3 separate regions of the Homo sapiens genome follow, and regions 1 and 3 are each linked to region 2. Evidence: fine-mapped expression QTL. A gene starts in region 2. Each other region holds a variant in brackets. All regions are shown on one strand. Distances are from middle to middle.

Region 1 (2,787 bases), 86 kb before region 2:
CCCAGGCCTCAGTCTTGTTAGGTGCAGTAGCTCAGGGATGGCAGACAGGTGACACACTTATGACTGCCACCTCTGAGTTCAACCTCACAGTGCTCCAGGCAGCCATGGTCACCCAGCCACCCACACACAGATGAAACCTCCCACCCCTGCCACTTGGATACCCCTAGGTGCAAAGGTCCCACAGTCTCACAGTGCACCCAGCATCTGAGGACTTCTGAGGGAGCGGGTAGTGGCCCTCACCTTCATGGCATGCACGACAGCCTCGGGCTTCTGTCCTGCAGGGCTGTAGCCAGCAGAGGGGGGCGAGGGCAGCTCAGGTGCGGGGCAGGCCGGGCCCTGGGGAAGGCAATCACACATCTCAGCTCACCCTGGCTGGCTCCCACAGGAATGACCGGTGGCTCAGACAAGGCCCCCATTCTGAGGGGCCAGGGCCCAGGCAGGAGGAAAAGGGGACCGGGGTGAGGCAGAGGAGGCAGGTGTGAGGATGGAGACCCAAGGAGCCCACAGCCAGTCTGGCCAGTCCCGCCCACCAGGTCTTCTGCAGATGAAATGGTCCCTGATAGCACAGAGGCAAGAGGGGCAGTCCAGGGCCCACCCACACCTCTCAGGCTCCTCTACAACACCCCACAGATAAGACCTAGCGTCTGTTTTGCAAGGAAAGTAAGTTCAGCCTAGGGAGGGCAAGAGACCCAGATCACAGCAAGACCAGGAAGGTCTGGACTTAACCCTGGCACCTGACTCCAAACTCCCTTCCCCTGCCCACCCTGGAGCCACCGGTGGGCGAGGCCGGCTTCGCCCTGAGCACTCCCTGGGGCCTGCCTCCCAGCTGCCACCTCCCAGCCCTGCGGGATGAATTGGCTGCCAGGTGCCCAGCTCCCACATCAGGCCTTGGGGAGGGGACCCAGCCTCTGTCAGAAGCTGCGTGTCTACCCAGGGGCAGGCAGTCCCACCCCCAGCTTCCTGCCTGGAAGGGTCCATGTGGCTGGGAAGCCAGGTGCAGGGCTTCTGCCTCGGGCTGCAGTGGGGACCACAGGGGCCCAACAGAAACCAGCAGGTCACAAGATGCTGGGAGAGGCTTGGGAGGAACTTACAAGTGCCCAGAGCCAGACAGAAAACACCCAGCGGTGCCCTGTGGGCCCTGGAAGCGGGGTTTCCAGGACATCTTCGGGGCTCCCACCTCTGGCAATCCTTGGGCCAACCATGGAAGCTGAGTCTGCCGCCCTCTCTGTAAATGGGGCCCTGATGACGCCTCCCAACGGCCTGGCAAGCTCAGGGAGCTGGGCTGGAATCCCACCCACCCAGGCCTGCATCATGGGGCCACCTAACACTGCAGGGCTGGGTTCTGCGACCCTCAGGACCTGGAACCCCCTGCAGGCCTGGCAGCCAACCCCTGGTGCCCTCCCCGCCCGCCCTGGCCTGGACCTGCTCCCAGGGCCTTGCAGGTTGACCGGCTCCCGCCTCCAC[A/G]TGGAGACCAGGCCCCACCCCTGAGGCTAGGGGGCCTGGGAGCTGCTACCTCCGGAGGCCCCCCGAGCCCTGGGGTCTAGGAAAGCGTCATTGAGGTGGGGCTCAACCCACGCTGAGCCTCGGTTTCCTCGTCTGGACAATAGAAAGGGTCCTCTGCCCCAGGGTGTGTGCAGACCCCTAACTCCAGCCCAGGCTGTTGGGTCTCTGTAGTGTAGGGAACCCAACAGGGACGCTGGGGATTCCCCCTGGGGCAACGCAAGGCGGCACTCCCCGCGCCAGACAGCAGGGGGCGCCAGTCGCACACATACGGCCCTGGGAGACCTGGGCACCTACACCTTCCTGCACCTTCCGCTGCAGAACACAGGCCATGTGCCAGCCGGCCCCTGGCACCTCTGGCCTCATCTGCACCAGGCCCCTGGGCTGCCTGTCCTGTTACAGCCCCCGGCTCTAGGGGGCTGGGATTTCTGCAGCACAGGCAGGAGGGAAGCCAGGAGCGTGGGGGTGGGCTGTGCAAGCCGCCCCTCTCCTGCCCGCCTCACTGGGCAGTGGTGGGTGCCAGCGAGGGCATGGCCCGGGATCCTGAAAGTGACACCAGGACTAGACAAAGCCCTAGTGTTACCTCCAGGGCATTCCCGGGGTGCAGGGGCCCCCACCTGTACTAGAACTCAGCCCCCTCGGGCCACACACACCTCCCACTGACTAGGTACCCACTTAGGGCAGATGGGCCCACTGAGTCCTTGCCACACTGCTCCCAGCAGGCACTATCTTTTTACATGTTCATACATGCCTTTTTTTTTTTTTTTTTTTTTTTTTTTTTTTTGAGTGAGAGGATCTCACTCTGTCGCCCAGGCTGAAGTACAGTGGCACCATCTCAGCTCACTGCAGCCTTGACCTCCCAGGCTCAAGCAATCCTCCCACCCCAGCTTCCAGCGTAGTTGGAACTACAGATGCACACCACCATGCCCAGCTTTTTTTTTTTTTTTTTGGTAGAGATGGGGTTTCATCATGTTGCCCAGGCTGGTCTTGAACTCCTGGACTCAAGCAATCCTCCTGTCTTGGCCTCCCAAAGTGATGGGATTATAGGCGTGAGCCACTGAGCCTGGCCTACATGCCCACTTTACAGACAAGGAGAGTGAGGCTAAGAGAATGGCTTGCCCAAGACCAAACAGCTTGTAAACAATGGGGCTGGGCGCCAAACCCAAGTCTGTGGGACTCCTGAGCTGGTGCCCAAAGTGAGGATACCAGTGTGCACCAGAGAGAACTGAAAATAGACATCCACAAAATACCTGTCGCCAAACGCTCAGAGCAACACCATTCATGTGA
Region 2 (2,653 bases):
TCTGGAGTGGCGGCCGCATGAGTGGGACAGCCAGGGACCACCTCCTCTCGCCGCAGCCTGGGAAAAGGGCTGCAGCCAGGGAGACCCGCGCTGCCCGGCCCGTGTAGTCCTTACCGTGCAGGCCGTTGGGGATGCTGCGGTGGTGCGGCGGCGCCGACAAGTCGTCCAGGGACCGACGTGTGGCTCCTGCCTTGCCGTCGGGGGCCTTGTGCGGCCCGGGGGGCAGCAGCGGGGGTGGGACGTGGTGGTGGTGGTCGGGGCTGCCGCCGCTGCCCGCGCTGGACGTACTGCTGCCGTCGCCCACGTCGCGGGCCCCCGCGCCGGGCGCGCCACCCGACAGCGGCCCGCTCAGGCTGGCCTGGCTGTCGATGGAGCTGCGGGAGCCGGCGCCGCCCCCGCCGCCGCCGCCACCGCTTGCGGCCCCCGTCGCCGCCAGTGCCGCGCGCTCCTCGTCCAGCAGCAGCACCAGCTCCTTGAGCTCCAGGTTCTCGCGCAGCAGGGCCTCCTGGCGCGCCTCGAGCTCGCGCAGCTTCTGCTGCGAGCGGGCCACCTCGTGCCACACGGCGCCGGCCGCGTGGCGCCCGAAGCGCTGCCACTCGCGCGCCAGCTTGCGCCCCTTCTGCCGGTCGTCGTCGAGGAAGCAGCAGAGCTCGCGCAGCTCCTGGTTGTCGTCCTGCAGCCGCTGGTTCACGTCCTTGAGGCCGCGGATCTCCAGCAGGTGCTGCTGCAGCCGCCGGTTCACGTCGCGCATCAGGCCGCCGTGCTCCAGCATGAGGCCCACCTTCTCGCCCTCGGCGCGCCGCAGCCGCCGCGCCAGCTCCTCCTTGCTCCAGCGCAGCAGCTCCTCGTCCGGCACCTGGCTCAGCTCCTCCGACGCCGCCGCCGCCGTCGCCGCGGGCTTAGCCATGGCGGGGCCGTCACCGCGGCATCGCCCTCGCCCTCGCCCGGCCGGCGCTTCCCCGCGCCGGGGCTCCGCTGGGCCGGTCCGCGCGCGGGCGGGGGGCGGCCGGGGGCGCGTGCGGCCCGCCCCGCGCCGCCTGGCGCGTCCTCTCGCCGCGCCCGCCGGGGCCGCCCGGGAGCCCGCGCGCCTCGGGGTTGACGAGCGGAGGCGGCTGCTGCGTCGGCGGCCGCGGTGCCGGGCGCTCTCAGGGTTCTGGAGAAGCAGGCGGAGGCCCGCCCCCGGCCCAGCTCCCGGAGCCCCCGCCGCCCCGCCCACCCCGGGCGGAGAGTGGGCGGGTCTCCGAGGCCCGGCCCCGCCCCCGAGGGCGACTGGGGAGCAGAGGCGCGGCCCCCGCCGTCCCCCTGCGCGGTGCGCCCGCCCGTCCAGTGCCCTCTCAGAGGCGCGTTCCGGCCGCGGTCCCGCCCTCCCGGCCGGGCGATTGGGCCGCTCCGGGGGTGTGCGGGAGGGGCGGGGCGCGCGCGGGGGAAGCTGCGGCGGTGGTACGGTCCATCCGCGGGGTTTCCGACCCCCGCCCGCGGCCGGCTCCCGGCGGTTCAAGTTTCTGCGCCCGGAGGACGCGGCCTTAGCCAATCCCAGGGCTACAGGGCGCTTTTAAAATGCAGGTACGGCTGCGGGGAGGGGGACGGTGGGAAAGGTAGGGCCGGGCTTCCCTTAAAGGCGACGCGCGAAAATAGCAGTCGAGCCCCCTCCCCGGCCCGCGTCCCCGGTCCTCTTCCCTCTCCCCAGATAAACAAATACCCACGATCCGGGCGACGGCGCCCCTTCTCCCTCCCGGGGGCACCAGAGTTCAGGGCAGTCGGAGACACAGCGAACAATAGGACTGTGACATGGGGGTCGCTCTTCCCCGCAGCAGGGCGGCTCTTTGTCCCCTTCCCTGCCCCCAGGCTCCTCCGCCCCCGTCCCCACCCGGGTCCCCTGCCGGAGCACGCGGCGGGGCTGCGTCTCCACTCCTAGCCCAGGGCTGAGCTAAACGCTGGCGTCCGCGCCCCTGCAGGGCCAGGGCCTTGCCAGCCGCGTCCCGCAGCGCGGTCAGTACTCTCTGCCCCGATGGGGCGAGAGCTCCGGGAACCTGCCCCCTGCCCGGAGCGGCGCTCGGAGCCCCGCTCCACCTCCGCTCACTCGACCGCTAAATCCCTGGGATTCGGGAGATAATCTGCAATTCGCGGGGTGGAAACCACTGGGAAGGGTGGGAAGGTCTCCCACTGGGGCCTGAACGCCGGGGTCCGGGGGCGCCGAGCCGGCCACAGAACTCCCCACCGGCGGCCTCGCGGGACCCCCGGGCTTCCCACTGCCTGTAAGTCTGTCTCGTTATCCTCCGGTCCCCAAAGCGCATTTACGGCGCGTCTACCGCCAGCAGGCGGGGCGGGGCGGGGCGGGGGGGGGTCCCTCCCCCGGAACCTGCAACGAGATCAAATCCGCGCACGCGACAGTGAGCGGCCCACGGCCTGGAGCGCGCGCCCGCGCAGCAGCTGATGCCCCATTTACAGTTGCTAAGCCGTTCATTCAGCTGTGTACTCAGCGCCTACTCGCCGCGGGGCCTGCTCCAGCCCCGGGGGATTCTGCAGGGCACCGAACTGCCCTCTGCGGGGGACTTGGCGTCCTGGGAGCAGGATGGGGAGAAGATAGACGAGCTAGATCAGGATGAGACTTGTCTTAAGTGCTGTGCGGGGCATTAAGTCGAGCTGCTGTCAT
Region 3 (2,787 bases), 79 kb before region 2:
CTGCCATGCCCTGACCACGGCATTAACCCTGGCTGACCCTGCCTAGGTTAACTAGAGGCACTCACGGCCCGCAGGTGGAGGTCAGATCAAGGAAAGCCCCCTCCCCACCCACCAGGTACCAAAAAGAGGAAGAGGCTACAGCCCCCACCCCTAGGCCCAGCACTCACCCTCCCCCAACCATGAGTGACACCCCTCCCCCCACCCCATCAGAGCCACCCATGCCTCTCTGGGTCACCTCTCCTGAGAGATGTACCCCTAGCTCCACTTAAGGGCGAAAATTCCAAACCACCTGATTTTCTTGGCCAGGACTCTGCAACAGTAAGAGAGTTACAAAATCTTCTCCAATGGAGAATGCATTCTAAGCCAGCACACACTCTGAATGCGTGCGTGCACATACACACAGTCTGACTACTGGGCCACACAGCCAGGAAGGGTACACCTGGGATTGGAACAGCTGCCCTCCCCTTCAGCCGGCCCTGCCCTGCCCTGCTCAGCTTCTGTTTGGACTCCGGCGTCCCTTCCTCCACATCCTCTCTGGCCCTCGACCAAATGGGCTCCCACGTGCTGTTACCGAAAACGCAGGTTTGTGCTGCCGTCCCCTCCCCTCCCCCAGATAATTTCCCTGGGAGGAGATGTGTGTGCGTGAGCGTGAGGGAGGTTTTTAATTAGCTGCACGCAATTCCCACCCTTGCCTTCGGTGAGCCTCTATAAACATTTGCATGTCCATAGAACTTTATTAGCAAGCCACAAAGCCAGGCAGGAAAAACACACAATCTCTCATTAAGGGGCAATGTGACTAATGGCGCATCAAATGAGTAACCATTATTGCACTTAAATCCAAATTAAAAATCCTGCTATGAGACAGGTCGCTGCCTTTGCAGAATGAGATTCCCTAGGATTTCCCCGAGGAGGGGAAGCAGGAGCTGAAATCACCTGCTGGGCTTGTTCTGCACACAGAGAAGAGCCCCAGCTAAGGAAGGTGCTGGCCCTTCCTCAGGGGGAGGCAGGGGGTCCACTGCCGCTCCCCAGAAACACCCACCTGCCCAGTCTTCCTCGGGTGGCTCCCTCAGGACCCAGGGAGAAGGGATCTTACACACAGAGCTGCCAGCTCAGAGCTCAAACAAGATTTCCCGAATCCTTAACAGGGTGGGGCCAGCCCTGCCAAACACTCAGCGTGGCCCCTTCCACCCTGGCCAGGCCCAATCCGCATTACTCACTTCTAGAGCCTCCAGAGGGCAGCATGAGTGTCCTGGACTAGGGAGGAAGAGACCCAGGAGGTTGCAGGGCCTCCTTTTCCACTGAGGACCGGAGTTCAGGACACCTCCAGCCTGTATCCAGGGCCTTCACTGCAACACTGCCCAACTCAGGGCCCAGCGAGGACTCGCTGGGTGAACTCCAGTTGTTCCCCAGCCCTTTCTGGGCCTCTGCAGTGCGGCCCAGCCTTCTCCCCAGAGGGGAACCCCGTCCTGCAGCGAATGCCTGCCTGCAAAGCTGCAGGGGGCCTATGTGGGGCCACCCTGGGGTGACCCCTAGGGAGCATTGTCAGAGGGGATGCTGAACAGAAAGAGGATAAGACATGGA[A/G]ACAGAGCCCACCCACCCCAGCCTGCCCACCTGAGGCTGCTTGTTTGGAAAGGATGGGTGGGGTGGCTGCAGGCAGGAAGCGCCTTTCTGGGCTGTGCTTAGGGGAGCTGCTGTCACCCTGCTTCCTGCTCCCAGAGAGCTTTTGGGCCCTCAAATGTGCTGCATCGGTTATGTGTCCGAGAGGCACAAACAGAGCGCCTCCTGTGTGCCAGGCACCACGCTGTGCCCCATCAGGGAGGCTGCAACTAAAGGGGAGTGAGGGCTGGGGGTGCGGGTGGAGGCAGGCACTGAAGAGGGGGTGCCCTGTGTCCCCACCTGGGCAGCCTGCCCGCAAGTGACCACTTGGACCACCAGACTCGAAGCCCCAGGCTGATTCATACAGAATGCCCTGGGAAGGAGTCCTCGTGGAGGGGCCACCTGGCGCGACTCTGGACCGGTGTCTCAGTGCTCGGTGCAGGGATGGGTGGGGACCTGCGAGGCTCCTCCCTCCTCAGCACCCTCCAGGATGGCTGACAGGTGAGCATGGGCCCTTGGCACCGTGTGGCACAGCACAGCTCGGCTCAGCCGGACAGCCAGGTGTGGCCAGGGTCCAGGACCACAGTGGACAGCAACGCAGCCACATCCCTCTCCCCCTCCCAAATTTAGGTCATGCCAATGACTGTGTCTGACTTGGGAGACACTGTGGGGCTCAGGGAGAGGACCCCAACACAGGCCTCCCCCAGCCCAGACTCTCCTGGGTCAGGTGCCCTCCTGCTTCTGGCCTGTGGGGGCTCCAGGGGATCTGTCACAAGAGGCCAGTTTCACCGCAGCTGAAGAGCTTGAAGGTGCCGTCTGCAGGGAGGGGCCTACATCCACCCTCAGAGCAATGGGAACCTGGGCAGGAAAAAGCCACATGAGCCCAGGCCCCGTGCAGCTCCTGCAGGCACTAACAATGCCTCTGCCCTGAGCGTGTGCTAAGATGGTCTCCAGGTCCCCGTGGTCACTGTGCAGTCCCCAGGCTGGGATGGGAGCCAGGTTGGAGGACAGGGAGCTGGAGAGAGCTCCTTCCAGTTCACATTTCCCACCAATCCCACTCCCACAGATAAGCCATCATCCCAGGGGCTACGGAGGCGAGAGGTGAGACCCAGGGAGCAAGGCCACGGCCCAGTGACCACCCCGTCCCCAAGACCTGGCGACCTCCCTCCAGGAAGAGGAAGTGGGGGCAAG

Evidence for each region. PIP is the estimated chance that this variant, and not a neighbour inherited with it, causes the effect. A credible set is the group of variants that fine-mapping cannot tell apart.
Region 1: its variant is the best candidate, but not a certain one, in a credible set for the expression of CCDC85C in whole blood (TOPMed, PIP 0.89).
Region 3: its variant is the best candidate, but not a certain one, in a credible set for the expression of CCDC85C in whole blood (TOPMed, PIP 0.63).

The regions. Positions count from the first base shown.
Region 1 is chr14:99,516,848-99,519,634 of GRCh38, forward strand. It overlaps CCDC85C (coiled-coil domain containing 85C), which reads right to left. Exons shown (of 6, transcript NM_001144995.2): 4 at 241-336. Among named protein-coding and RNA genes, the nearest start is that of CCNK, 37 kb to the left of the region's middle. The variant A/G (reference allele first, on the strand shown) is at 1,465.
Region 2 is chr14:99,603,053-99,605,705 of GRCh38, forward strand. It overlaps CCDC85C (coiled-coil domain containing 85C), which reads right to left and starts at 1,155. Exons shown (of 6, transcript NM_001144995.2): 1 at 115-1,155. The coding sequence starts at 907. It also overlaps a transcript of HHIPL1 not described here. RefSeq lists enhancers at 1-3, 710-829 and silencers at 1,090-1,619, 1,760-1,899, 1,960-2,029, 2,210-2,359.
Region 3 is chr14:99,523,827-99,526,613 of GRCh38, forward strand. The region is part of intron 2 of CCDC85C (coiled-coil domain containing 85C); the gene reads right to left. Among named protein-coding and RNA genes, the nearest start is that of CCNK, 44 kb to the left of the region's middle. The variant A/G (reference allele first, on the strand shown) is at 1,582.